Linked DNA regions of Homo sapiens: all the other regions are linked to region 2. The links come from fine-mapping of genetic effects on gene expression. A gene starts in region 2. Each other region holds a variant in brackets. All regions are shown on one strand. Distances are between the middles of the regions.

What was found.
Region 1: its variant is fine-mapped to the expression of RGS6 in whole blood (TOPMed, PIP above 0.99).
Region 3: its variant is fine-mapped to the expression of RGS6 in tibial nerve (GTEx, PIP above 0.99). The same link has a PIP of 0.9 or more in adrenal gland.
Region 4: its variant is fine-mapped to the expression of RGS6 in whole blood (TOPMed, PIP 0.91).
Region 5: its variant is fine-mapped to the expression of RGS6 in lymphoblastoid cells (GTEx, PIP above 0.99).

The regions. Positions count from the first base shown.
Region 1 is chr14:72,405,963-72,411,068 of GRCh38, forward strand. The region is part of intron 3 of RGS6 (regulator of G protein signaling 6); the gene reads left to right. It overlaps LOC105370559 (a long non-coding RNA gene), which reads right to left. Exons shown (of 4, transcript XR_944018.3): 3 at 1-41. Among named protein-coding and RNA genes, the nearest start is that of MIR7843, 110 kb to the right of the region's middle. The variant T/C (reference allele first, on the strand shown) is at 2,188.
Region 2 is chr14:71,929,450-71,934,555 of GRCh38, forward strand. It overlaps RGS6 (regulator of G protein signaling 6), which reads left to right and starts at 2,980. Exons shown (of 18, transcript NM_001204424.2): 1 at 2,980-3,492. It overlaps LOC124903404 (translation initiation factor IF-2-like), which reads left to right and starts at 2,477. Exons shown (of 2, transcript XM_047432046.1): 1 at 2,477-2,576; 2 at 2,720-3,441. The coding sequence starts at 2,477. The coding sequence ends at 3,441. RefSeq lists silencers at 2,769-3,048, 3,069-3,228.
Region 3 is chr14:72,095,324-72,100,429 of GRCh38, forward strand. The region is part of intron 2 of RGS6 (regulator of G protein signaling 6); the gene reads left to right. Among named protein-coding and RNA genes, the nearest start is that of RGS6, 170 kb to the left of the region's middle. The variant T/A (reference allele first, on the strand shown) is at 2,054.
Region 4 is chr14:71,958,569-71,963,674 of GRCh38, forward strand. All of the region lies in intron 1 of RGS6 (regulator of G protein signaling 6), which reads left to right. Among named protein-coding and RNA genes, the nearest start is that of RGS6, 29 kb to the left of the region's middle. The variant G/A (reference allele first, on the strand shown) is at 2,040.
Region 5 is chr14:72,489,472-72,494,577 of GRCh38, forward strand. The region is part of intron 12 of RGS6 (regulator of G protein signaling 6); the gene reads left to right. Among named protein-coding and RNA genes, the nearest start is that of MIR7843, 25 kb to the right of the region's middle. The variant G/A (reference allele first, on the strand shown) is at 2,290.

The DNA.
Region 1 (5,106 bases), 480 kb after region 2:
CCAGGATTGCTGGGGCTGTCTGCGTCCAGATGTTAAGGTTACTGTAGACAATAAATGGGAGAGGGTGAAGGAAGGAGGATGTTTAGAGAAAATTATCCAGTCACCTGGAGGAAAGGCTCTTAGCTGCAAAAGAGGAAATAAGGGCCAGGCACAGTGGCTCATGCCTGTAATCCCAGCACTTTGGGAGGCCGAGGCAGGCAGATCATGAGGTCAGGAGATCAAGACCATCCTGGCCAACATAGTGAAACCCATCTCTACTAAAAATACAAAAATCAGCCGGGCGCAGTGGCACACGCCTGTAGTCCCAGCTACTTGGGAGGCTGAGGCAGGAGAATTGCTTGAACCCGGGAGGCAGAGGTTGCAGTGAGATGAGATCGTGCCACTGCACTGCAGCCTGGTGACAGAGTGAGACTCCATCTCAAAAAAAAAAATAAGAAACTGCTATTTAGCACAACATCAAATAAGCAGTTTGTTGCTTATGTCTGAACACTTCTGTGAAAACAGGCAAAGGCAGTCGTGTGTAGGTTCTGGTGACCAGGAACTGGAGCTGCACAGAGGTGTAGAGGCTCCCAAAGCTCGTCAATTGTTTATGAAGGGAGTAAAGGCTGGAAGTCAGGGGGTGGGTGTCAGTTTCTGCCACTAGCTACCAGATTTCTCCTAAAGATGGGAAAGCTCCCTTTATAGAGCTGGAGTGCAATTTTGTGTTTTCTTTGTGTTTGGCAATGTCTGTTACTGACTTGCAATAGATATGCAACAGTATAGGTATGTTCATCTTAGTATTTTGGGGACAAAACTCCCAAACCAGCCACCACACAAATGTATTTATAGGTACCAGTAGGCACCTTTGGACTCGGAGGGAAGTCAGCCTCCTTAAAGCCGTATTCAGTAAGGAGAATGAAGGGTAGGCATGGCTGCAGCTTGGGTTGTGCCCACCATGTGGATATCCAGCCATGATCTCAATAGTCAGGTTGGTCCACATTGTCCAGATATCTCCATGTAACATTAACTCAGACTTTATGAAAATAACCGGTGAGAATAACCAAAGCCACATTGGGTAATGAAAACTGTATGTACAATTTTCTTTAGTTACATTGATGTTGTTACATACTGTTCATAATTAATTACATTGGTTTGTAATGTATCATGTCCTATTGTATTGTAGGTTCTAATACCAAGACCCTAGGTGTTCCTCTCTTAAAAGCTGGTGACCACCTTTAACTCATGTGGTAAAAGAATGATAGTTCTGGGAGGATCTGCATTCTCTCTGTGTCCATGCAGCATTGCCCCACACTGCCTGTGCTGAGCTGCATGATCCTCATAGCTACATCATAGTCTTTGCTTGTAGGCTTGTCGTTTGGAGAACCGTCTTGGAGTCTTTATTGGTTGATGTCAATGGAAAGCTCTGCTTCCCTCTGGATGTCCTATGGTATTGCTGTTCCTAATGTCTTTCTAATGAGTGCTACGTGTCTGTATGTGTGTATAAAGAGATTTATGTAAAGAATTGGCTCATGTGATTACGGAGGCTGAGAAACCCCAAGATCTGCATTTGCCACTAAGTACTCAGATATTTGGTCAAACATGATTGTGAGTGCTGTTGAGTGCTGTATTTTTTAACTGCCACGTAATCCCCTCAAGGTCCGTGTTATTCTAGACAGTAAACCGGGAGAGGCTTCTAAAGCCCCCTTTGTCAGGAAATGTTACTTTAGAATCTGACCTTGTGTGAAACACAGATGACAGAACCTCTCTAGTGCAATGACATTAAAATCCTCCCCCAGTACTTGAAGTGCAAGGGAAATAGCTCATTGCTATTATGGCTGGATCATCTCATGGCCTCTCAACAGATCAAGAGCACCATTACTACTGTTGCTTTCTTGACTTGTGTTTTACTTTTATTCTAACATTTGTTGCAGTCTGTGTTAAATAGGGAGGTAGACCAAACTATGAGAAGGAGCCCTATATTGGAAACTGTATAGCCAACTATGAAACCTCCAGGCTTACTTTGCTTTCTCATTACAGGCGGCCTTCCCCTCTGCTCCACTGGAGAGAGTCAGAGTAATTGGCTCTTGCTTTATATGAAGGATATGCTCCCAAAAAAGTTGTATTTAAATCAAGTTTTAACAAACCGACTCATGCTTGTTTATCCACTTATAACACTTACTATTTAAAGGAAATGATAAAGAGTCCTTT[T/C]CTGTTGTTACAGCGTAGTTGGCAAAGCTGTATCTTCTGAAGACTGACTTGCACTCAGCAGTTTTAGATCAACTCGAGTCTGTTTATACTAAGATCCACAGACCCCTGGTGGTTCTCAGATGACTTGCAAATTCTACTAGTTTTTCCAATTGTGTGTTTTTTGATGATAACTTAAAAATTTTTTATGATAATCTTTTCATTGTTTAGTATAATAATGTACAGATAAACCCTAGATGATCACCTTATAACTGAGTGCTGTCATGAGATTTCAGTGCCTTTGTTCTCAGTCCTGTAGGTAACCAAGACTTCATCTAAAATCACATCACTTGACTTTAAATGTTTGCAAGACACATCTGACTGTCATTGGGTTGATAAAATCTGTCTTGTCCTCATTTTGTGTTGTGTGGGACTCTATCATCAGGTACAAAAGCAAAACTCCTTTGCCATGAGCGTTCACAGTTGAATGACTTTTTTATAGACCAAGAGTTTAGTTTCTTAGAGTATATATTGAATCAATTTGGCATCATGGAAATGGCATAGTACATTAGAGGCACATACTATGTTAACTGTCACAATCTAATGATAAAGAACAGAAAAGGACATATTACATAATCGGTGCATTTCTGTTAAAGTCATGGCAAGCTTATTGAACTAGTTTTATAGCAATTTGGCAGGATAAAAATGATGGGAGGATGGAGTCATCATAGGGTGCCTGCCCTGTAGCATGGACACCTGGGACACACCTTGCTGGATGATGTCTTCTTTGGGTTCCATCTTAATACATGACAACTGGAAATAATTCTGTAGCAGAAAGTAGAGTGTAAAATAGAAAATGACTCTTATTCTGATGAATCAAAGTTTTTAAGCCATATATGTCGGAGTACACTTGAATTACTTCTGTAAAAACTAGCACATTATATAAAAATCATAATAAAAACAGAGATTCCAGTGAGGGGTCCCTCTTGTTCAGAGTCGAAAGATTCAAGTCAACAAAAATGGAACCTGTAAGTTAGTCTTTTTGCCACTGTTAAAAGAAAAACACTGGACACAATACTTTTAACAGAGTTTATGTGAGCATTAGAGGATTCATGAATTGGGCAGCACCCAGAACCAGAAAAGGTTCAGAGAGCTCTACCCAGCAGCATGGGTAGTGAGCTTTAATAGGCGGAACGTGGAAGTAAGACAAAGAAAACATATTTGATTTGTTAGAGTAGAAAGTCCCTAGTTAGAGGTTAGTTGGAGGTTTCTGATGGTAACTTCTCTAGTTTCATTTTACTGTTCACATTGGGCTTTGGTTTGCTTACCTAGGAACTTAAAGTGCTGGGAATGCTTCGGCTTAATGACCTCCCAATTAAAATTTTTTTAACATCACTTTTATTTATGATCTACAAAGTGGCAACTGCCTATTTTTTTTTAATTTTATTATTATTATACTTTAAGTTTTAGGGTACATGTGCACAATGTGCAGGTTTGTTACATATGTATACATGGCCATGTTGGTGTGCTGCACCCATTAACTCATCATTTAGCATTAGGTATATCTCTCAGTGCTATCCCTCCCCTCTCCCCCAACCCCACAACAGTCCTCGGTGTGTGATGTTCCCCTTCCTGTGTCCATGTGTTCTCATTGTTCAGTTCCCACCTGTGAGTGAGAACATGCAGCGTTTGGTTTTTTGTTCTTGCAATAGTTTGCTGAGAATGATGGTTTCCAGCTTCATCCATGTCCCTACAAAGCACATGAACTCATCCTTTTTTATGGCTGCATAGTATTCCATGTTGTATATGTGCCACATTTTCTTAATCCAGTCTATCATTGTTGGACATTTGGCTTGGTTCCAAGTCTTTGCTATTGTGAATAGTGCCGCAATAAACATACATGTGCATGTGTCTTTATAGCAGCATGATTTATAATCCTTTGAGTATATACCCAGTAATGGGATGGCTGGGTCAAATGGTATTTCTAGTTCTACATCCCTGAGGAATCGCCACACCAACTTCCACAATGGTTGAACTAGTTTACAGTCCCACCAACAGTGTAAAAGTGTTCCTATTTCTCCACATCCTCTCCAGCACCTGTTGTTTCCTGACTTTTTAATGATTGCCATTCTAACTGGTGTGGGATGGATGGTATCTCATTGTGGTTTTGATTTGCATTTCTCTGATGGCCAGTGATGATGAGCATTTTTTCATGTGTTCTTTGGCTGCATAAATGTCTTCTTTTGAGAAGTGTCTGTTCATATCCTTTGCCCACTTGTTGATGGGGTTGTTTGTTTTTTTCTTGTAAATTTGTTGGAGTTCATTGTAGATTCTGGATATTAGCCCTTTGTCAGATGAATAGGTTGCAAACATTTTCTCCCATTCTGTAGGTTGCCTGTTCACTCTGATGGTGGTTTCTTTTGCTGTGCAGAAGCTCTTTAGTTTAATTAGATCCCATTTGTCAATTTTGGCTTTTGTTGCCATTGCTTTTGGTGTTTTAGACATGAAGTCCTTGCCCACGCCTATGTCCTGAATGGTATTGCCTAGGTTTTCTTGTAGGGTTTTTATGGTTTTAGGTCTAACATGTAAGTCTTTAATCCATCTTGAATTAATTTTTGTATAAGGTGTAAAGGAGGGATCCAGTTTCAGCTTTCTACATATGGCTAGCCAGTTTTCCCAGCACCATTTATTAAATAGGGAATCCTTTCCCCATTTCTTCTTTTTGTCAGGTTTGTCAAAGATCAGATAGTTGTAGATATGCAGCATTATTTCTGAGGGCTCTGTTCTGTTCCATTGGTCTATATCTCTGTTTTGGTACCAGTACCATGCTGTTTTGGTTACTGTAGCCTTGTAGTATAGTTTGAAGTCAGGTAGCGTGATGCCTCCAGCTTTGTTCTTTTGGCTTAGGATTGACTTGGTAATGCGGGCTCTTTTTTGGTTCCA
Region 2 (5,106 bases):
ATCAGGATGCTGCACAAGGCTGATTTGTCCCATCACTGGTTTTCATTTATGTAAAATTTTACCAGTCGATTAAGATGATACCTCCCAAGTATTACAGCTGCATGTTAATAAGTATGCTGTACTTATTAATAATTAATGATGTATTAATGAACATTTTTAGAGATATGCTTTGAGACTATGTAAATATCCTGTTCCTCATCAAACTTTTACCCACCAATTTTAGCATTTATTGATGATTCTGGCCTGAATCAATTATTAAGATGGTGGTTGCCAAATGGTGGTTTTCTAATTCTATCTTTTCTTCTTCATTTATTAGTCGCATTCTACTATAGAGTTCCCTTCTCTGTTTCTATCAGCATGGACTCATGGACTCTTATTTTACTCAAAGGGTTAAATTTGTCATTAACTATTTTACTCCTTAAATAGTTCAAGATTTGGCCAACAGGAACCCCTTCAAGCTGACTTCTGTCTTCTTTTGACATGTCTCCATAATTCTTTAAGTATTTTCTCATTTCCTTGCACAACAAATTATTCTAGTTTCATCCACTATACCAAGGAACTGTGGTTCCTTTCAGTGGAGGATGGTATTAAGAAACCAAGGTCTGAGTGTTAGGTGTGTTCATTGCTACTGGGGTGCCATTGCTTTTAGGCCTTCTCAGTCGACAAACCTAGGAAATATATCACCATATACACACACATATACACTTATATTTTTCTGTCTATCTATCTATAATCTCTTTGGATCCAAAATCATTTTACACCTTCATCTCCAACTTCAAGGCACATAGCTAGATCTCTTGCCTTTCTGTATTGGTAATTCCCTTCTCCAGCAGTGAGATGACTGGCTCCAATTTTCTTAATGTATTTACTTCTTTGCTCAATTCCCTAGCACATAAACCAATCTCTTGGCCATGTCAGCAAAAAATGTGTCCTGTCTCTATTACATACATATATATATAAAATACCCCCCACATACATACACATACATATGAAATCAGATATTTTATGTATAAGAAACCATACTACATAGATATATCAGGAATCCCATATAATACACAAAATGTATCAATATGAAAATACATATCTAATTCCTATAAATATCTGATTTCACATATTTTTTTTTAAAGAGAAGTACACAGTAAGGCTTTCTTCTGATGAGCCTGGAGCCTGCTGTTTATACTTCCACAGTATTATTCCTTCATGCTGTACTTGGCCCTCAAGGAGCTGCTAGCCTCAGAAATGCAGAGTTCCCACTGGGTGTGGTGGCTCAAGTCTGTAATCCCAGCACTTTGGGTGGCCAAGGCGGGTGGATCATCTGAGGTCAGGAATTTGAGACCAGCTTGGCCAACATGGTGAAACCCCATCTCTACTGAAAACACACAAAAAATTAGCTGGCAGGCACCTGTAATCCCAGCTACTTGGGAGGCTGAGGCAGGAGAATCGCTTGAACCTGGGAGGCGGAGGTTGCAGTGAGCGAAGATTGCACCACCACACTCCAGCCTGGGCAACAAGAAGGAAACTACGTCTCAAAAAAAAAAAAAAAAAAAAAAAAAAAAAAAAAAAAAAAAGCAGAGCTCCTCAAAGCGGAAGTTTCCCTAGTTGCTACCTTTCGCTCCATGTACAGCCTATTCTTTAACTGTGACAAACGGCCACAGCCAGCTCCACAACCGGCTTGAGCCAAGTATTGAGCCTGAGGAAAGAAAGATTTTATATTTCAGCTTTAATAAACAACTGGGACATCTGTTACAATTCTATTTTCCTCACTAGGCTGGGTATGGTTTCTCTTGGTTGCAGGTTTCCCCCCACCCCCCGCCTTTCTGTGTACTAAGCCTACCATAACACACATGTCTGCTTGTGTGTTATCCCATTCGACGTGAAGGCTTCAGGGCAGAGACTGCTTCCTTTATTATCCATTTCTAATGTTAGAAGAGGGTCTAACACAGAGCAGGTGCTATTTGTCTATTGAAGGAAAGAATGAATACATCCATTAATCAATGTAGAATGGCGGGAAAAGACACAATTTGGGAAGGAGACTTTACTCTTTAACTTCTGGACCCATGTGAATGAGGAGTCCAGGTCATCCATCGTTAAAGGCATTTAGGTATTTTATTTCAAGTATTTTTCCCCTTTTCTGGTGACATACTACAATTCAGGACTAAATCTCAAATTTATTCTTGATATTGATAGCATTGATATTGCACACAAATCCCACGGTTACCGTCCAGCACTAGTGATCTTGTCCTATTTCCACCTGCAGCTTTTTGAATCTAAGTACACATCGCATTTCAAAACTCCCACGTTAAAGAAAGGCATCAGTTCAAGTTACTTTCTCATTTTCTGTCTTCGACTTTTTTCTGCTTCCCCCAAGAATATCTGAGAGTTACTTTTCTCGAAAGTTCTTTTGTAGTGTTCCAGATAGGAATCATCCTGTAATATTCCAAATGCAGCGTGTGGTGTGCATGTTGAATACATAAAAATGACGAGGTTAGGAACAATATCGCTGACGGTCGCGGTGTCCCGTTTTAATTTAGAGGGCGCCAGCAACACGTCAGTGAGGGAGATTCAGAAGCCGCCGGGCACCTCACCCCGGGCCGGGAATCCCTAAGAGAACCTTGACGCCGCTGAAGTTTCCGGACCGGGCCAGTTTGGAATTGACGAAAGCAGCCTCCGCCCGGTCGAGCCAGTCTCTCGGTTTTCTCGGCGGCTTCTTGAGGATGAGGCATTTCTAGGTTTTCTCCTCCTCGAGCAAATCACGGTCTGCGCCTTCCGCGGCTCTGGGAACAGGTGAGCCGTGCGGCGGCGCCCGCGGGACGCGCTCAGGTGCCGGTCCCCGCCCGCCGGCCCCTCCCTGCAGCACGCGGTCCGGGCCCAGGTGCCGGGGCCCAGGTGCCGGCGCCCAGGTGCGCGGGGCACGGGGCTGCAGCTCCGCTCGGCATCCGACAGCGGGCGCCGCTGCAGCAGCTCGCGGGCCGCGGAGCTGAACGGCTTCGCGAGTTGGGGCAGCTCCTCGCGCTCGGCCCTGCTCGGCGGCGAGAGCTCCGCCTGGGCGCCGCGTTCCTACAGCCGCCGGAGCCGCCAGGCGCCGAGGGAACGGACAGACCTCCGCGCACCCTTGCCGACCGGGGCGGGCAGAGGCGGGCAAGCGGCGAACGCCTGGGAGCGCGGAGAGCCAGGCCAGCCCGGAGCGCGCCGGGGACACCCTGTGCGCCCCGAGTCCCGGCACCATGCGACCCGCCGCGCGTCCTCGCGGGCCCGGGGCTTCGCTCTTCGCTCGCTGAGCCCCTGCGCTCGCCACCACGGAAACTCGGAAAGAGGAGGCGAGGCTGTGGGGAGCGGCGCGGAGACGGACTAGACTTCCCCTCCGCCCCCAAGAGGCTGCCGGTCCCCGGTTCCCTGGGCTTCTCCAGCTTTATCATGAACCTGGCGCAAGGTTGGCTTTAGGAAAAATTCTGGAGCCAGAGGGAGAGTCAAGGCAATTCTTTGGTTGCTAAGGTAATTGTAGTTGTGATAAAAAATGGGCAAGAAACAAATGGGGGAAAAACATGGTTTAAAACAGTATCCTCCCTCCCCACCCCATTAATATGTGTTGATTTCATCTCCTGGGTGTGGGTGCTTGTCCATTTCAGATGCGTGACAGGTGCCCGTGTGTGTGTGTCTGCAGTTTGGGACTGTGGAAGCACGAGCTTACATAAGTGGTTAGGCAAGCTGGCGTGTGGACTTGTGTGGGATGGGTGCAGGTCTGCATATAAATCATGTTCCTGGGTTTCTGGGTGTGAAGCGCACACCGACGGGGACGAGAGCGCAGAGGATGGCGCTTTTAGATACTTCCAGTCTTCCGATGTTGTGATCGCAGGTAGGGCAGCTTTGCCTCTAATCAGGCGTTCATTAACTTTTTCCCTGAACAAGCTCGCCCATTTGTGGTTTGGAAGAAAAGAAAGCGAGTCTCCGCGGTGAGGTGTGGAGGGCAGGGGCGGGTGGGGAGGTTTGTTGTTTGGGAACTGCGCTAGCAAAGGAAGCGGTGGCTATTCGCTTGGAGAGGATGACAAATGAACTGGTTGCGTGAGGAGTGAAGAGACCGTGTTTACAGTCACCAGCAGGCTGCGTAAAGAAGTGGCCCAGTGAGACAGGGAAAGTGACCCAGAAAATTTAGTTTTGTTCAGAATGAAAGCTGCTGTATTTCATTTTTGTTTCTTAATTTGACGGAGTAGGAACGTTATTTTCCTTCTCTGTCATTGAGACCAGTAGCATTTCTATGTTACAAACTGAAGATATTTGGGGTCTCGTCGGCTTGGGATTATCAATGCTTGGGAGGTGAGTTCTGATCAATACCTTTAACAACCCCAAAGAAAAACGCAAAAATAATCAAGTTTAGGTAAAACTTCCACTGGACTTTCTTTCCAGGGAGGGTGAGAGATGGAAGAACTGGGCTTGTAAGTATCAAAATGGAGTTAGAGAATGAGCTACAAGTTTGTGTGTGTATGGTCTGTCAAAAAGTGTTAAGACTGAAAGGAAACTGTTAGGTTTAGTTAAATGTGTTGACAACACGGCTCTTACATATCAATTTTCATAGGCAAATAGGTAATTACATAGAGTGGGAACTGGGACTATGGTGGGAAACTTTCTGTAAGATGTATATTCTTTATTCTTAATTTATCACTTTTTCAATGGGTGGGACTACTCTGTGAAGGAAAGTAGAGGGCTGAGGGACATTTGGTGAGACTCTTGAGAGAGAAACCTTTGCAAGCCAAATCTCGCATGCTATAGATGATAAATTCTAAGTTCTTTGATATTGTACCACTCTTAAGCTAAATTGTCCTGTAAATATGATCTCATGCACCATAAACTATATATATGTAGAGAGAGTCTATTCCCAATAACTCATCCTTTCCTGAAAGAGTCTGCAAGTTCTATAAATGTCAGCTGTTGGGAGGTATTGTGATGAAGGAGAGAGGCCACCAGTGTTTCCTTTTATATATTTATTCTGGCAGATCTTAACTTTACTTCTGATTTTCTTTAAGGAATTTCAGTTAACATTCACTGAATTTATATTGCTGAGAGTTTCAGTAAAACAAGACTAGATTTTCTTTGAAGCAATAAATTCATCTT
Region 3 (5,106 bases), 170 kb after region 2:
ACTGTCAGAGACCCAGTTTCTTTTGTGCTTTCTGCTCTATTTTTTGTAGTCTTTCAGCCTTTATCGTTGGGCTTATTGTCTCAGGGTTGCAAAATGACTGGTCTGACTGCAGATTTTCTAGGAGGGAAGTGCAAAGTGGTGGTGCTGGCCACAGCTTTCCTTCTTTGTCAGGACAGCAAAAGTTTCATCGGAACTCCCCAGTGGACTTGCTCTCTTAATTCAAAATGGCTGTAACAGTGTCACGTTGGCTGCACCTGTTTCAAAGAAAGTTCAGAAAATTGGGTATTTCACAGACACATTAAGATTTCAAACAAAGACGAGAGCATTCACAAGGAACAGAGAGGGAACGTATGTGGATGGGGCAAGTAACTGCCAGTCATCAGCCTGTTATGTACTGTACACATAGAGTTTTGCTGTGCAGCAGCAAATATAAAAATGAATGTCATCACCATGAAAGTGGAAAACCGTATTTCAATGTCATGCAAATGCCATAATTGAAATGAAAAGATAGGAAATGCTGGTGCATTGTCTACATTAATGTATTTGGTTGTTGACTTTATTGCATAAAAAGTATCAGTGGGGACGAGATAGTTTTGCTTTGTTTCAGAAGATTTTGCTTTTGTTTTTCCCAGCTAAGAAGGGAACCTTAAAAATAATGAGGAGGGCCGGGTGCAGTGGCTCACGCCTGTAATCCCAGCACTTTTGGAGGCCGAGGCAGGTGGATCACTTGAGATTAGGAGTTCAAGACCAGCCTGGCCAACATGGTGAAACCCCATCTCTACTAAAAAATACAAAAAAAATTAGCTGAGTGCGGTGGCACGCACCTGTAATCCTAGCTACTTGGGAGGCTGAGGGAGGGAGAATTGCTTGAACCTGGGAGGTGGAGGTTGCAGTGAGCTGAGATTGCACCACTGCACTCTGCACTCCAGCCTGGGTTACAGAGTGAGACTCTGTCTTAAAAAAAAAAAAAGAAAAGAAAAACACACAGATGTATGAAATAGAGCTTATTAATTCTGTATATATTCACAGAAAACGCATACTTTTATGCCTTGATTATCTTTAGGTGATCATGGGGAACAGGAGCCCAAAGATAATTAACAACTGTGCTAAAACAACAAAACCTCAATTGGGCTACAAATGTCAATATCATGTACACAGGTGGAAAAGACTCTTCTTTGATTTCATATTTTTCTTTTATTTCCTTGGCATCCCTGTTCTGGTTATGTCTTGCTGTGTACTCTAGACATAGGTTTTGTGGGTTGACTGAGCTCAGCCGGGTGGTTCTCACTGGGGTCTCTTATGCCCTGGCTCTTAAATGGCAGCTGGGGCTCCTACACATGGCATCTCCATATGGCTTAGGCTTGTCACAGTCTGGTGGCTGGGTTCTGAGGCTGAAGTTTCCAAGAGACCAGGGGGGCTGCTGCAAAGCTTTTAACCTGAGCTTGCAAGTCATGAAGCATCCACTTTCCGTTGGTTGTGCTGGACAGCCCAGATGAAGGGGCAAGTTCCCAAGGACGTGGATACCTAGAGGCATGGTTCATTAGGGACCAACTTTGGAGACAAACAACCACAGTCTCCTTCCTTCTCTTCCCTTGGGGATTGAAAGGGTTATCAAAAGCTGGCCAGAAAGAGAAGCAAAGGGTGAGGATACCGCTGCTGCAGCACGTCTGTAGTAGGGAATGAACCCAGAATGTGAAGAGTTGCCATTCTAGTACCCTCGAGTGTCCTTTTCATGCCATTGGAAACTTGACAATAGTAATTGGGAGTGAGTTGAAATCTTCAGCTTTCTACCTTTGTATTGTCCTTTCAGAGCAAAAAGAAGTAAACATTAACTTAAAAAATGCTTTTGATATTAATAGTTACAAACAAAAAACAAAACATGCAACAATTCCAAGCTCAAATCAAAACCAACACTGAGCTTTGAGGTGCAATTTCTATTCTATGTGTGTGGCCATCTCCTCTTGTGTTAGTGGCTGAGCAGAGAATGCTCCATTCCAAAATAAATAGAATTAATTTTCTTAACAGCATCTTTCTTTGTGCCAAGAACACAGGG[T/A]TACAGGAAGCACATCTGAATGTACCATTGGCAGGTTAAATCATTCTCTTTACTTTGGTCTTTGGTGGGTTTTTATGTTTGTTGCTTTTCATCTGAATGAATGGCAATAGAGCAAGTTTTAAAAATCCTTAGGGATCTCCAGAGATTCCTGTCTTGCTAAGAAACAGGAAGGCCGCAATTAGCAGAGACCAAGAATGAAGAGGAGGAGAAGGGGGCGGGTGTCTTTGTTGCTGTAAACTACTAGTTTTCACCATTCTGCACCTTGGGCTGTGTTGCTGCTGCTACCTGGAACACCCTTCCTCCCCCTCCTCTGCCGGGAAGACTCCCACTTAGCCCAGATGCAGCCCAGCTGCTGGCTTCTGCATGCAGCCCACCTCTTCTTGCTGGACAGGGTGGCGTCTTGTCCCCCACACCCACAATTCCTGTGCCTATCACTTTGTCTCTGTATTCCTTCCTCAGATTGTAGCTCCTTAGTGGCAGGGACCAGCTCTTAGCCTGATATCATCAGCCAAGCAACGTGTAGGATGCAGAGGTTTGGCAAAACTTTGAAAGCGGGAATGTATAGTCAACTATGTCGATGTCTGGGTCATTTTTCCAATGTCTGGTAGCAATTGTGTTAGGTGGCTTATACCTCTCCTGGACCCACACATAGCAAATTCTAAAAATAACAAACTGGACCATATAAGCTTTTCCAAAAGCCTGGGGTGGGGGAGATGTTATAATATCCTGACATAGCTGTGCTGTTGTTCATTTCACCTCTGTCACCTAGAGCAACCCCCTCCATGTTTTCCAAAACCGCCCCCATCCTCGGGGTCTGGTTTGGGACCCCTGTCCTCCTGGAGGTCCTCTTTGAACCCTCTGGACCCTTCTCTCAGAGCCCTCTGGTACCTTGATGTCACAGCATTTCCTGTAATTTCATTTCCCTGGCCTCTTGGCTAAGATAATAGGCTCCTGTCCTTGCTTTTTCTCTGTCCCCTGAAAGGGGTGAAGTCGTGTGGACATGTGGCAGGTGCCACTATTGTTTATCTGCTGAACACTAGCACTCCCCGTGCCTTCATGCCATCAGGCAGGGGGCATTTGTTCTTTTGACGGTGTGGACAGGGGCAGAGTTTAGTGGCATTGTTCTTTTTTAGCTTAATGAGCACGAACTGTCAGAGCTTGGACCAAATTTTTCTTGCAGATATATTTTGATTGACAGGCACAGGATTTTTGGAGATAATTGAAAGAGTTGCCAACATTTATCAGGAGACTGTACATAAAAATACAGAGTTCCAGTTTCCCTCAAAAATTTGGAAGTTTTGGCAAAATTGAGTCCCAATTACCAAAAATTGCTTCTAACCAAGCAGTAACTATTCCCTTCACACAGAATGAGCCTCCCTTCCCTCATTTCCTGTAAAATGGTACTGCATGTTCTCCTCTTTCATTTGTGTCACCTGCCTCATTGGTGGGTAAGTTGTTCTAGAAAATGTCTATCATATGTGCTGCTGTACTGCTAAGTGCGTAGAGCCCTAGTACCCACAGGGCACACACAAACAAACCTGGTATACAAAGAACTTCTGTGCGGATTTCTTTCTTATTGTGCACATTTTAAGGGGCATCAGTCTCTGTCCATGCATCCTTAGAATTGTATGGCTTTTTCATGATTTGATTTATTCAACAAGGATCGAACAGTCTGTTTGTATTGAGTATTTACTATATATTAGTTACTGTTCTAAGTATAAACTCATTGATCTCACAACTCTGAGATGGGTGCTTTTACTATCTCCATCTTACAGATGAGCAGCAGTTTTTTTGTTGTTTTTTGAAATGGAGTCTCTCTGTCACCCAGGCTGGAGTGCAGTGGTGCGATCTCGGCTCCCTGCAAGCTCTGCCTCCTGGGTTCATGCCATTCTCCTGCCTCAGCCTCCCGAGTAGCTGGGACTACAGGTACCAGCCTCCATGCCCGGCTAATTTTTTATATTTTTAGTAGAGACGGGGTTTCACCGTGTTAGCCAGGATGGTCTCGACCTCCTGACCTGGTGATCTGCCTGCCTCGGCCTCCCAAAGTACTGAGATGACAGGCATGAGCCACCGCACCCTGCCTAGAAGCAGCTTTAATACCAGGTCACACAGCCAGGAAGTAGACTAGCTAATGTTTCACCTTAGGCACAGGTGGAGGGAGTCACACATCTGTAAGATTTGTTCCCAGGACAATATCATTTTCTTTAAATGTCTGTTTTGGGAGGACTTCAATGAGCTCTCAGATAGAAACACCCATTTCCAGGGAGCATTCTTACCCTAGAAAAAGCTTGGGACAGTTGTATTCAGACAGCTCTGCTGTTGACCATGTAAGGAACTCTCTGCCACTCTTCCTCATAGCTTTGGCGGGGATTATTTGTCTTTAGACTTGTTCCTTTTTGTGAAAGTGACAGTAGTGATAGTCATTAGTAGTTAGTAGTCATGGTTACTTTTGTTGAGCACTTACAGTGCCAAATGTAGTAAGCACTTTCAAACTGTATTACTCTCCCCGTTTCTACTTGGGAAACTGAGTATTACTGTGTGAGTGATGGGGACTTCTTGAAAGATCCTAAACATGGGAATGTCGTAATCAGGTTGCTGTTTCATGGATTTGGTTCCGAAAGCCAAGCAGAGAGCGGGTCACCAGCACAGTAGTAAGAGTCAGGAAAATTGGTTGAGACTGTTGTGTACAGGGGAGAGTTGCTTGGGGCTTGAACTAAAGGGACGGTGAAGAGAGGGGTAGGTTTGAGAGAGACTTAGAAGATAGTAATGGCAAGGCCTGGTAAAAGACGGGAGTGATTTCCAGTTTTACAGTTTGGACGGCAGCATGGATAAGAAAGAATATAAGGGGCTGGGTGTGGTGGCTCAGGCCTGTAATCCCAGCACATTGGGAGGCTTAGGTGGCCAGATCACTTGAGGTTAGGAGTTCAAGACCAGCCTGGCCAACATGGTGAAACCTCCTCTCTCCTAAATTAGCTAGGCGTGGTGGTGCACACCTGTAATCCCAGCTACTCGGGAGGCTGAGGCAGGAGAATCGCTTGAACCTGGGAGGCAGA
Region 4 (5,106 bases), 29 kb after region 2:
GCCAGGATTGAAAGCCAGTTTTTTTTGACCCCAGAACCTTGTTGTATCCATTTCATTGAGTTTTTGCCTTAATACATGGGAAGCTAAAGGAGCCCCCCCATTAGCATGTCTGCCCAAACATCAGGCAGCATGGGATGGGAGGAAGGGATCAAGTGAAGGGAAGGCAGGCTCCATGGAATCTAGGTCAGCGGTTTCCAAACCTGGCTGTACTTACAAATCATCTGGAAAATGGTTAATCTGTAAATCTCCAGGGACCACCCTAGGCCTATTGGATCAGAACTTCTGGAGCATGGGAACCGGGAGTATGTATATTTAGAATATCTCCCAGGTTATTCTGAGACTGCTAGCCTAGTTCCGGTCCTTGGGCAAGTTTTTGGGAACCACTGAATTCTAATCGATGTCCTAAAATGATTAAGTGATTATATCCCAGTAAAATACTGGGTGTCTTCCAGTGCCACCAAAATTGGCCTTTAGGGGTTGAGTGCTATTGCCGTACTTTAAGATCTTGGTGCATTACCTGAAACGGACACTCTGTCTGTCATTGAACATTTGAACTTCGAATATATAGGAAATGTCAAGTTGGCATACTCTGCTATAACAGGAAGAGTGATTTGTTATTTAGAGCTGTTGTTCTTCCTTCTTTCCCCTTGGGATTCCTGCCCACTCAGTCAGATTAGAGCTATATAAACAAGCTCGTACTACTGAGCTAGCACACATCTTGTAAATTTTTTTTCCTGAAGTGCTTAACGTTGCTGATGTCAGAAAAAAAAAATCCATTGGGTTTTAATGGGCTGAGGCAAACAATGAGAATTTGATATAATATGGAGGAGAGGAAATAACTTCAACAGAAATTCTTATTTGGCAGCATAAATATTCAAACTATATTACAGTCAGAGTTTGATTGCTTCTCCTACATGGCATTTCCCTGAATAGGGTTTTGAGGGCTGGGCACTAAGAGTGGCAGGCATGATGTTTAAAGCATTTAGTTGCAAGCCATGGTAATTTCAGTGACATTGTAGGGTAATTGTAGTTGGTTCTCCTCTTAGCTCTGTGTCAGGATCACCTGAGGAGGTTGTTGGACCGCTGAAGGCTTCATCTCTGATGCACGAGTCAGAACATCTGAGGGTGGGGGTTGGGGTGGGATTCTCCATTGAATCTGATGCCAGTGGCCTGGGAATTTCACTTGGCCAAACCCTGGCTTAGAACAAGGTCACTGGTCAGTTTCGATATTCATTCTGTGCTGGGGCATTTCCATGACTTAGTGTCTTCCCTCTTCAAAAGCAACCCTGCGTGATGGAGGGGTCTCATCTTCCAGGCAAGGAGCTGGAAACGTAGGGTGGGAGAGCCCATTGTCAAAGGCCACATAGTAGCCTTAATGAGGCTAGAGCTGAGATGTGATTCCCAGTCTGACTTCAAAGCCCTTCCTTTTCCTATACCATCGAGGCCCTTCCTTCCTGCTCTGCTCAACATTGTTAGCTGCCGAACCCTAGGCTTTGCTTGTTCCAGAGGGGCTGGCATTATAAAGTAAACAGCAGGCATTTATTGTAACTGCAAGTTACAGATGCAGTGTCAGTTTGGAGTAGACTTGCAGGCACAATCCTGACTTTCAATGATTCACGAATCTGTTTGTGTCACAGGTGCTCAATTGTCCTATTATGCATAGAGCATCCCCTTCACTATATTTTCTTCCCTCACCACATATTCCTTCTTACCTAAATTGCTTATGAATTCCAGAAGTGGATTGCTGAGTCCAGGCTGGTTCATATCAATAAACCTTGGGGAAAATCTTTATGTGTGATGCTATACATGGGTCTTTGTTGATCAAGAGTCTTCTTTATTGGCCACTTTTAATGGCTTGTTATCCAGATGAATCTTCTGGAAGGAGGACACTGCATCCTGGTGGAATTTTATCAGTTCCATCATTCATTCAAACATATTTAAGTACCTTCTATGTGCCAGGTTCTGCTCTAGGTGCCAGGGAGAGAGGGGTGAACCCCAACGATAAAGTCCCTGCCTATGAAGAACTGACTTTCTAGAGA[G/A]GAAGTCCCTGATAGACAAGTAAACAAAGTCCCGCAGATTCAGATAGTTGCGAATCCCTGTTATCTCACTCTCCACACTTGGCTGTCTCCCACTTAATCTTTCTGGGATCAGATTATCTTTGTGGCTTTTTTCTCTTGACTGTCTAGCACAAAGCTGAGCCGCTTCTGGGGCTTCAGATTTCTATGCCTGTGTGTGTGCATAGCCTTGGCTGGAATGGCAAACTTTGCCTCTCCCAGGCTTCTGCTCATCTGTCACCTCCTCCTACTCTGTGCCATCATAATTGAGCAACCACATATTACAGTGTCCTTTCTGTGAACACATCTGTTATTCCTACCGGTCTCTGAACATTTTAAGGAGAGGATCTGTGTCTGACTTATCTGTATATCCCCAGGGCCTAGCATGGAACCTTACAAAAGTAGATGCTCAGTATATTTGCTCAAAGAATAAATGATGAGTTCCAAAGAACCTGAGGGTGGGTGGTGTGGTATAGGAATTCCGTCATGGGGAGGGATGCTGAGTCAGATGGGGGATGCTCCACCGCAGTGGTTTTGTGATTTATTCTTTGAGACATTGAGTGCTGTCATGAATAGAGGAGATGGGCTGGGATATAGGCAGTATTGACAGAGACACGTGGCATGGAACATTCTGGTGAGAACCTTTGAAGGAAAGTTAGAAATGTGAGGTTCTGAGGGTCTAGCTCAGAGCTGGAAGGAACTCTAAGGTTGCTGGATTTTATAGCCAATGCCCAACTGAGGTCCAGGGAAGCTGTGTGTCCTGGTTCTGATAGTTGGTTAGTTGCAAAGGAGCTAGGGGTGGGGTGATACCAGGACTCCTAGTTCAGAGGGCTTTCCACTATGCTGGGGCTATGGTGTGTGACAGATAACAGATTAAAGGCACAGAGAGGAGAAGGAACTTGCCTAAGATCACACAGCTAGGAAGTGGTGGAGCCTGGATTTGGACATGGATCTGTCTAATGAGAGGCATCTTGTAACCATCAAGCTGTATTGTCTCTTCTTGAAGACTGTGAAATGCAAGGTCCTAGCCCATTTTCAGTTTTCCTCTTGGGTTAGCTGTGAGTCCATATAGGAAAATAATATTAACATGCTTTCTTTCTTTTGGTATGCAGTTACATGTTTTCAGAAAAATGTTCACATTCTTCAAATGTTAATATTGAAGCCCCTGGGTTGTTTACTGTGTGTATATATATGTATATATAAGTACAATGAAGAACATTCTGTTTTTCTCTACCACTAAATTTAAACCCATTTCTATTGTACTCCATTTAAAAGAAGTATTTTACATCATACTATAATGAATGAAAACCTAGTCCTTTAATTTCACAAGCCCCAGCTTTAATAGTCAATGAATTTAATTAGAAAATCTTTACCTATGTAGGTTTCACATCCAGTTCTCTATAACATCTGTTGACCTATGGACTAGAAAGTATATTATTATTTTAGAAATGATTCTTTCTAGACACAGGAAAGCTAAATAGCTTGTCTGAGTTTCAAAACGAGTTAATAGAGGAACCAAAAATAGAAACATTTCTACTGAATACGAGGCTTACTAAAATTCTTCACACAGAGACTATCTGCATTCACTTAGTAGTTTCCAGTCTAGACTCTGGAACATCAGCCTGTTTTAACACACACAAATGCTTCTGTTGGTGGGAGGGGGTGGCTGGGCAGAGGGAGGCCGGGCAGAGGGAGGCCTGACACGTTTGTTTCTAGGTCATTTCTAACCTTGCTATTATAATACAGTTTTCTAGATAGAAGAGAATGTGCTCATTAAAGTGTTCATTTTAAAATAAAGCGACAGAAACTTAAAACGTCTCTATTACATGGATACATGAGTATATATAAATGAACTCAATTTTTGTTTTCATGCTCTGTTGTATTCTGTATTAAGGCAAAGGAGTAGGCAACTAAGTAGTTGTTTAAAAATAAAACTGTGTGTTGTTCATTTAATTTTAAAAGCCATTGGTTAGAATGGTAATCAGTGTTTCCATGTAGTACTATATTCATAGAAATCCTGATATTACAGTGTATAGAGATAATATTATAGAATGATGCTCTTTACCTCTTTATGTAATCTAATTTTAAAAAACATTGTAATTTATAAATAGTGAAGAAAGCAGGTAGTGTTATTCGAATGGGATATTTTCGGCAATTAAATTCTTAGCATAAATTACAAATTCCTCTCTCTCCCATTTTCCACCCAAATTTGTTTTTATGGAATGACCTTTGGTAGCAACTTGTTTTATAATAAAATGTTTCCTGAATTTGTATTTTGAATTGAAATGGCCTTTTCTGTCACGTATGGTATTTATAAGAGTTTCTTTGATGAAAAGCCTCTGAATTTTGTGCAAATAACCCAGGCAGCCTCTTAGATGAGGGATAACATTTGTATAGGACTTTTATGGCTTTATACTCTGCTCTCATACTCAGCTTATTTGACCCTTACCTGCGGGGAACTTGGTGGAATTCACATTTTACTGCTGAGGACAATGTAGAGGAAGGTGCCTTGGCATGACTCAGAGCATATAGCAGGTGTTTGGTATGTTTGTTTTAAAGGGAAATTAACAAAAGAAACCCAAAAGATTCTTGTACTTGCTCAAGGTCACACAATAAATATAGTGTCATACCAAGGATTGAACTTCCTTCTTCACTCAAAACTTCCATATACTTGTTCTTATCTCACTGTTATCTTTTCAGGCTTTTCAAAAAGGCCACATTAAATATATTTATTTTTCTTAATTGAGGTGAAATTCACATAACACAAAATTAGCCATCTTAAAGTGTATAATTCAGTGGCATTTCATGCTTTCACAGTGTTCTACAGCCATCACCTCTATCAAGGCCCCTGAAGGAGACCCTGTATCCATTAAGCAGTCACCCATTCCATCCTCCCTGCAGCTACTGGCAGCTACCAATCTGTTTCTTGTCTCTGTGGACTTACCTATTCTGGATATTTCATAAAAATAGACTCCAGCAATATGTGACGTTTTGTGTCTGGCTTTTTACACTTAGCGTGTTTTCACTTAGCATGTTTTCAAGGTTCATCCAC
Region 5 (5,106 bases), 560 kb after region 2:
TGAATGTGACCTCCTTTGGGAAGAGTCTTTGCAGATGTAATTCAGTTAAGGATATCTACATAAATCATTATGGATTATCCAGAGACTCCAAATCCAATGACAAGTGTCCTCATAAGACAAAAAAGAGAGCGGATGACACAGGCACAGAAGAAAGCCATGTGAAGACAAAGACAGAGATGAAAGTGATGCAGCCACAAGCCAAGGCATGCCTGGAGCCACCAGAAACTGGAAGGAAAAGAAAGGAAAGGAAAGGAGAGGCAAGGCGAGGTGAGACGAGGCGAGGCGAGGTGAAATTATCCCCTAGAGCCTTCGGAGGGAGGATGGCCCTGCCAACACCTTGATATCAGACTTCTAGCCTCCAAAACCGAGTATAAACTTCTGTTGTTTTAACCATTTGTGGTCATTTGTTATTGCAGCCCTAGAAAACTAACATATTCCTCAACATGCAATGCCATTTCTTTTATAAAGAATTCAATCAGCCCAAGTAGCTAAGAAGTGGCTTCCAGGTGCAGCACCAACTTGTAGCCTGGTCCTTCCTGCCATAGTGCTTTCTTACAGCTCCCTTGCCCAGGTTCATTCTGCCTGAGATGTCGTAAAGCTCTTGATATGGTTTGCCTGTGTCCCCACCCAGATCTCGTCTTGAATTCCCATGTGTTGTGAGAGGGACCCAGTGAGAGGTAATTGAATCATGGGGCAGGTCATTCCTGTGCTGTTCCCATGATAGTGAATAAGTCTCATGAGATCTGATGGCTTTAAAAATGGGAGTTTCCCTGCACAAGCTCGCTCTCTTTGCCTGCTGCCATCCATGTAAGACATGACTTGCTCCTCCTTGCCTCCCACCATGATTGTGAGGCCTCCCCAGCTACATGGAACTGTAAGTCCATTAAACCTCTTTCTCTTATAAATTGCCCAGTCTCAGGTATGTCTTTATCAGCAGCATGAAAACAAACTAATACAGCTCTTATTGGTGAAGCCTGGCCCCAGGGAAGATGCATACCTTGCAGGAGATTTATAGGACAGAGGATGTGCCTCTAGTGTGCCCGTGGTTTCGCTTGTCTATTTTATATTTGTAGAGGATTGTCAAGATTCTTTGGAGATGCTTTCCCATTTTCTATCACAATGGTCCTGAGTGCTCAACAAGCCTGTTATATAACATGATGAACTTGACAAAGATCAGTTAAATGACTCAACCAAGAATTCAAACTAAGGCTTTTCAACTGGGACCACTGCTGCTTCTACCCCAGGGGTCATGATAAACACCTGGGACAGCGAGGAGGCTCTGAGGTGTCCGAAAATTTACATCCATCTTCAAAACCAAAATTACCAGGGGCTCTTTCATTTTGATTTGATGAATAAAACATCTTGTGTCCTGAATGTTTCAGAAAATTGAGGAATGAGATATGGTTCTCTCAAACTTGGATGTGCATATGAATCACCTGGGGGATCCTATTAAAAAGCAGAATCTGACTCAGGAGGCCTGGGCTGGGACCTGAGATCCTGCATTGCTAACAGGCTCCCAGGTGATGCCAGTGCAGCTGGTTTATGGATCACACTTCCAGTAGCATGAGATGGCACCTCTGACTAATTTCTCTGCCTGTTCAGCATTAAGCTAATTGGCCATTATTGCCCTTTGCAATTCAGTAGTAGGAATTGTGGCTCTGACTTTGCTGTTGTGGGAGAAGATGCTGACACACAAGCTGGCAATGCTTAAGGAAAAATTTTATTGTGGATCGATAACCATAAAAATATTCATACCTTTTGGTCAAATAATTCTGCTTATGGATATGCATTCTAAATAAATAACCCAGAAGATGAAAAAAAAAAATCTGTGTGAACAACGGTGTTCTACCACAGCACTATGTATATTAAAAAAGAAAAAAATCTGTGTCTAATAAAAAGGAAACGATTAAGTAAATTGTAATAAAGTCACTCAATGCAACCAAGACAATATTGTAGACATATGTTCATCTTCTCCCTTTCCTCAAATGCAACATGTCACTAAAGGAACAAAAATGGCATGAACTCACAAGGTTAACAAACTATTAATAATTTCAACACATTTGTCCAAGATACAAAGTTTACGTAATTGGGGAACATAACCACAGGCCCCTATGTCTGTATTTGTTATTTTTTATTTTTTTAATTGGTCAGCGAGTACAAGGTATCAAAGTAAAATCTTACAATTTTTATACATTTCTGTATGCCTGAAATATTTCAAAATTTAATAAAAAAGAAAGTGCATAGGGACAGAGTAAAGAACATTCTAACCTACATGTTGGGGGCAGAAGT[G/A]ATGTGACAAAGTGAGCCAGTTTTCGCAACAAAGCCTGGCCTTGGCTCTTGAAGGCACTAGGGACCATGGAAAGCAGGAATGAGGCATGGGGCTAACAGCAGAGGAATGGTCAAGTCTGTCACAGGAGACTTTGCACCCCTAGATCTCCTGCCCTACTAGGAAACAATCCTTCCCACCTACCACCACTGCAGGAGATGGGCAGTTTTTTCTTGAGAGAAATTGAGCCACATACGCTCAGATCTCAGACACATCAGATCTCATAAGAGGCCACCTGAAAATAAGAGAATTAATGGAAGCTCTACGCACTGAACTGTGGGGCCTGTAGGGATGGAAAGTGTGATACCTTTCCTCATCTACCATAAGGATTACGGCCAACACTGCTATAACAAAAGAGGTTAACAAGAGAAAAGCATAAATGCATTTATTTCATCAGTTTCACATGACACAGAAGCCTTCAGAAATGAAGACTCAAAGACCCAGGGAAAACTGTATTTGTGCTTAGGTTCCATGAAGAATGGGAAGCCTTGTAGAAATGTGATTGGACAAAAGGGTGTGATCTACTGGTAACAGACTGAGGGGAGGAAACCCAGCAAGGCCTGTCTGTTCAGATTCTTCTTAGTGTCTCTGAGTAGCATTCCTACCTCCCAGGTAGGACCTCTCTGGAATGAGGGTTTTCAAGGGAGAAGGGAGCGAGTGACCTTTCTAGGTTTTGTGGCTTGCTTTGCAGGAGAGGCATTCTAGTTTCTATGACCCACTTTGGCGAAAAAGAATTCTTGTTTCTATGACTTACGTCGGGGGAGAAAAAGGGATGGGAGACGGGGGCAGGAGAGAAGGTGAAAGCCTTGGCTTCTGAGGCCCTTCCATTCTCCTTTAGTTCAAAGTACTCAGCATGCCAACATACTATACTTTAGGGTATCATGTTCTGAGCCCCAACAGACCCTCAGCCCCTCCCCGACCCTGCTCTCAGGCCTCCAGGAGCCAGACATATATACCCACAGGCAAGAGACTGTCAAAGTACAACCTGTGGGCCAAACCATACTCCATTCTGTTTTTGCAAATAAAGTTTTATTAGAACACAGTCACACGCATTCATTTGCAAGCTGTCTATGGCTGCTTTTATGCCACAGCAGTAGAGCTGAGTAGTGGCAACAGACACCATCTGGCCCACAAAGCCTAAAATATTTACTATCTAGGCCCTGCAGAAAAAGCTTGCCAATGCCTGCCCTAGGGAAAAATAGACGCCCCAGAGGAAAGACTCCAGATCCCTCATTTGGAGCTCCCATTAAAATACTGGTAAACTTCCCTATGACAATGAAGCCCATCAGTGACAAGCCCCATCCACACGCCCACTGAGCCGCCAAGCAGGTTTCAGTACCTCAGTCTTAAGTACAAATGGATGTCCAAAGATTTTCCAGACACTCCAGGAAGGCTCAGCGTGAAAGAGTATAATCAAAATAAACCGACAGAAAAAAGGAACTTGGAAGAACCAAAATAATTCAACAACTGGAAGAAACTTACAATAAAAGTATAGAACTCATATTATCTGAGAAATGAGAAGGTATTTCATCCATAAAACAAGAACTAGACACTATGATAACCAAAAGTGAACTCTGAAACTTAGAAAGTAATGGCTCAAAATTAAAAAATAAATAAATAGTTAAAAGAGAGTTTAACAAAAAGACAAGGAGATGAAAAATGGGAGGGAAAATAAACAATTCAGGATGTCCAATATTGAACTGGAAAAAAAAATATAGGACAAGCAAACAAAGGAAACAAAGGGTTTAAAATTAGTGATGAATACTATAAAATTCCTGATAATTATTTTCTTATCTATCACACACTGTGCCCAGCATAGTAAATAACAACAACCAGCAAGGGCCATCATGAAATTGCAGAACACTCTAGCAATAAAGAGATGATTCTAAGTTGACAGAGAGAAAAGAAACTGAACCAAAGAACGAGAATCAAAATGGATCCAGGCTTCTCAATAGTAACACTGCATACCAGAAAAAAAAAAACATGGAGTGATGCCTACAAATTTCTAAAGGAAAGAGATTTTTCACCTAGTGTTCTATGTCTAGCACTATCAGTCAAGTATGGAGATAAAAGCATTTTTAGACTTGCAAGGATTCTCATGCATCCTTTATTACGAAACTACTAAAGGATGTGCTTCAACACAATCAGGGAGTAAAAGCAAGAGATAGACATGGAATCCAGGAAACATGGGCTTTTCAACACAGAAGTGAAGGAAGTCCCAAAAAGATCATTTTCCATCAAGTCTATAGAGCAAATGATCCAGTTTCGAGCAAGAAGACTAAAGACTTCAGGAAAGAGGATCTCTGGGAAACAAGAGGACAGAACTGCTCAATTATTTGATGTGTTTAAGGTATAAAAAAATGATTGCTAGATGTTTTACAGGTTTGTTAAAACACTTGCTTGGAAAAAGTAGTATGATATTTAGCTGAACAGCAAACAATTTTTATCTAGTTTAATAATGTTACACTGACCATTGATTTAACAAAAATTGTAACACAAATCTATTTGGAGGATCACGTAAGAAAAGGAGGGAGTTGAGGACTGGTGAATAGAAAGATAAATTCTTGTCTAAAATAAAAAAATCAGGAATAGATATAAAAGCGTATAATTTAGAAATATATAGGTAGCTTTTAGAAAAAACATAAGGTGGAAAGTAGATGCCTCTCTGAGAAGGGATGGGAGGAAAAAATAATTGCTTTTGCTTTTTTAGTATATATAATCATTTGGTACTATTTTATTATTCTAACTATTCACATACATTTTGATAAGAATAAAAATTA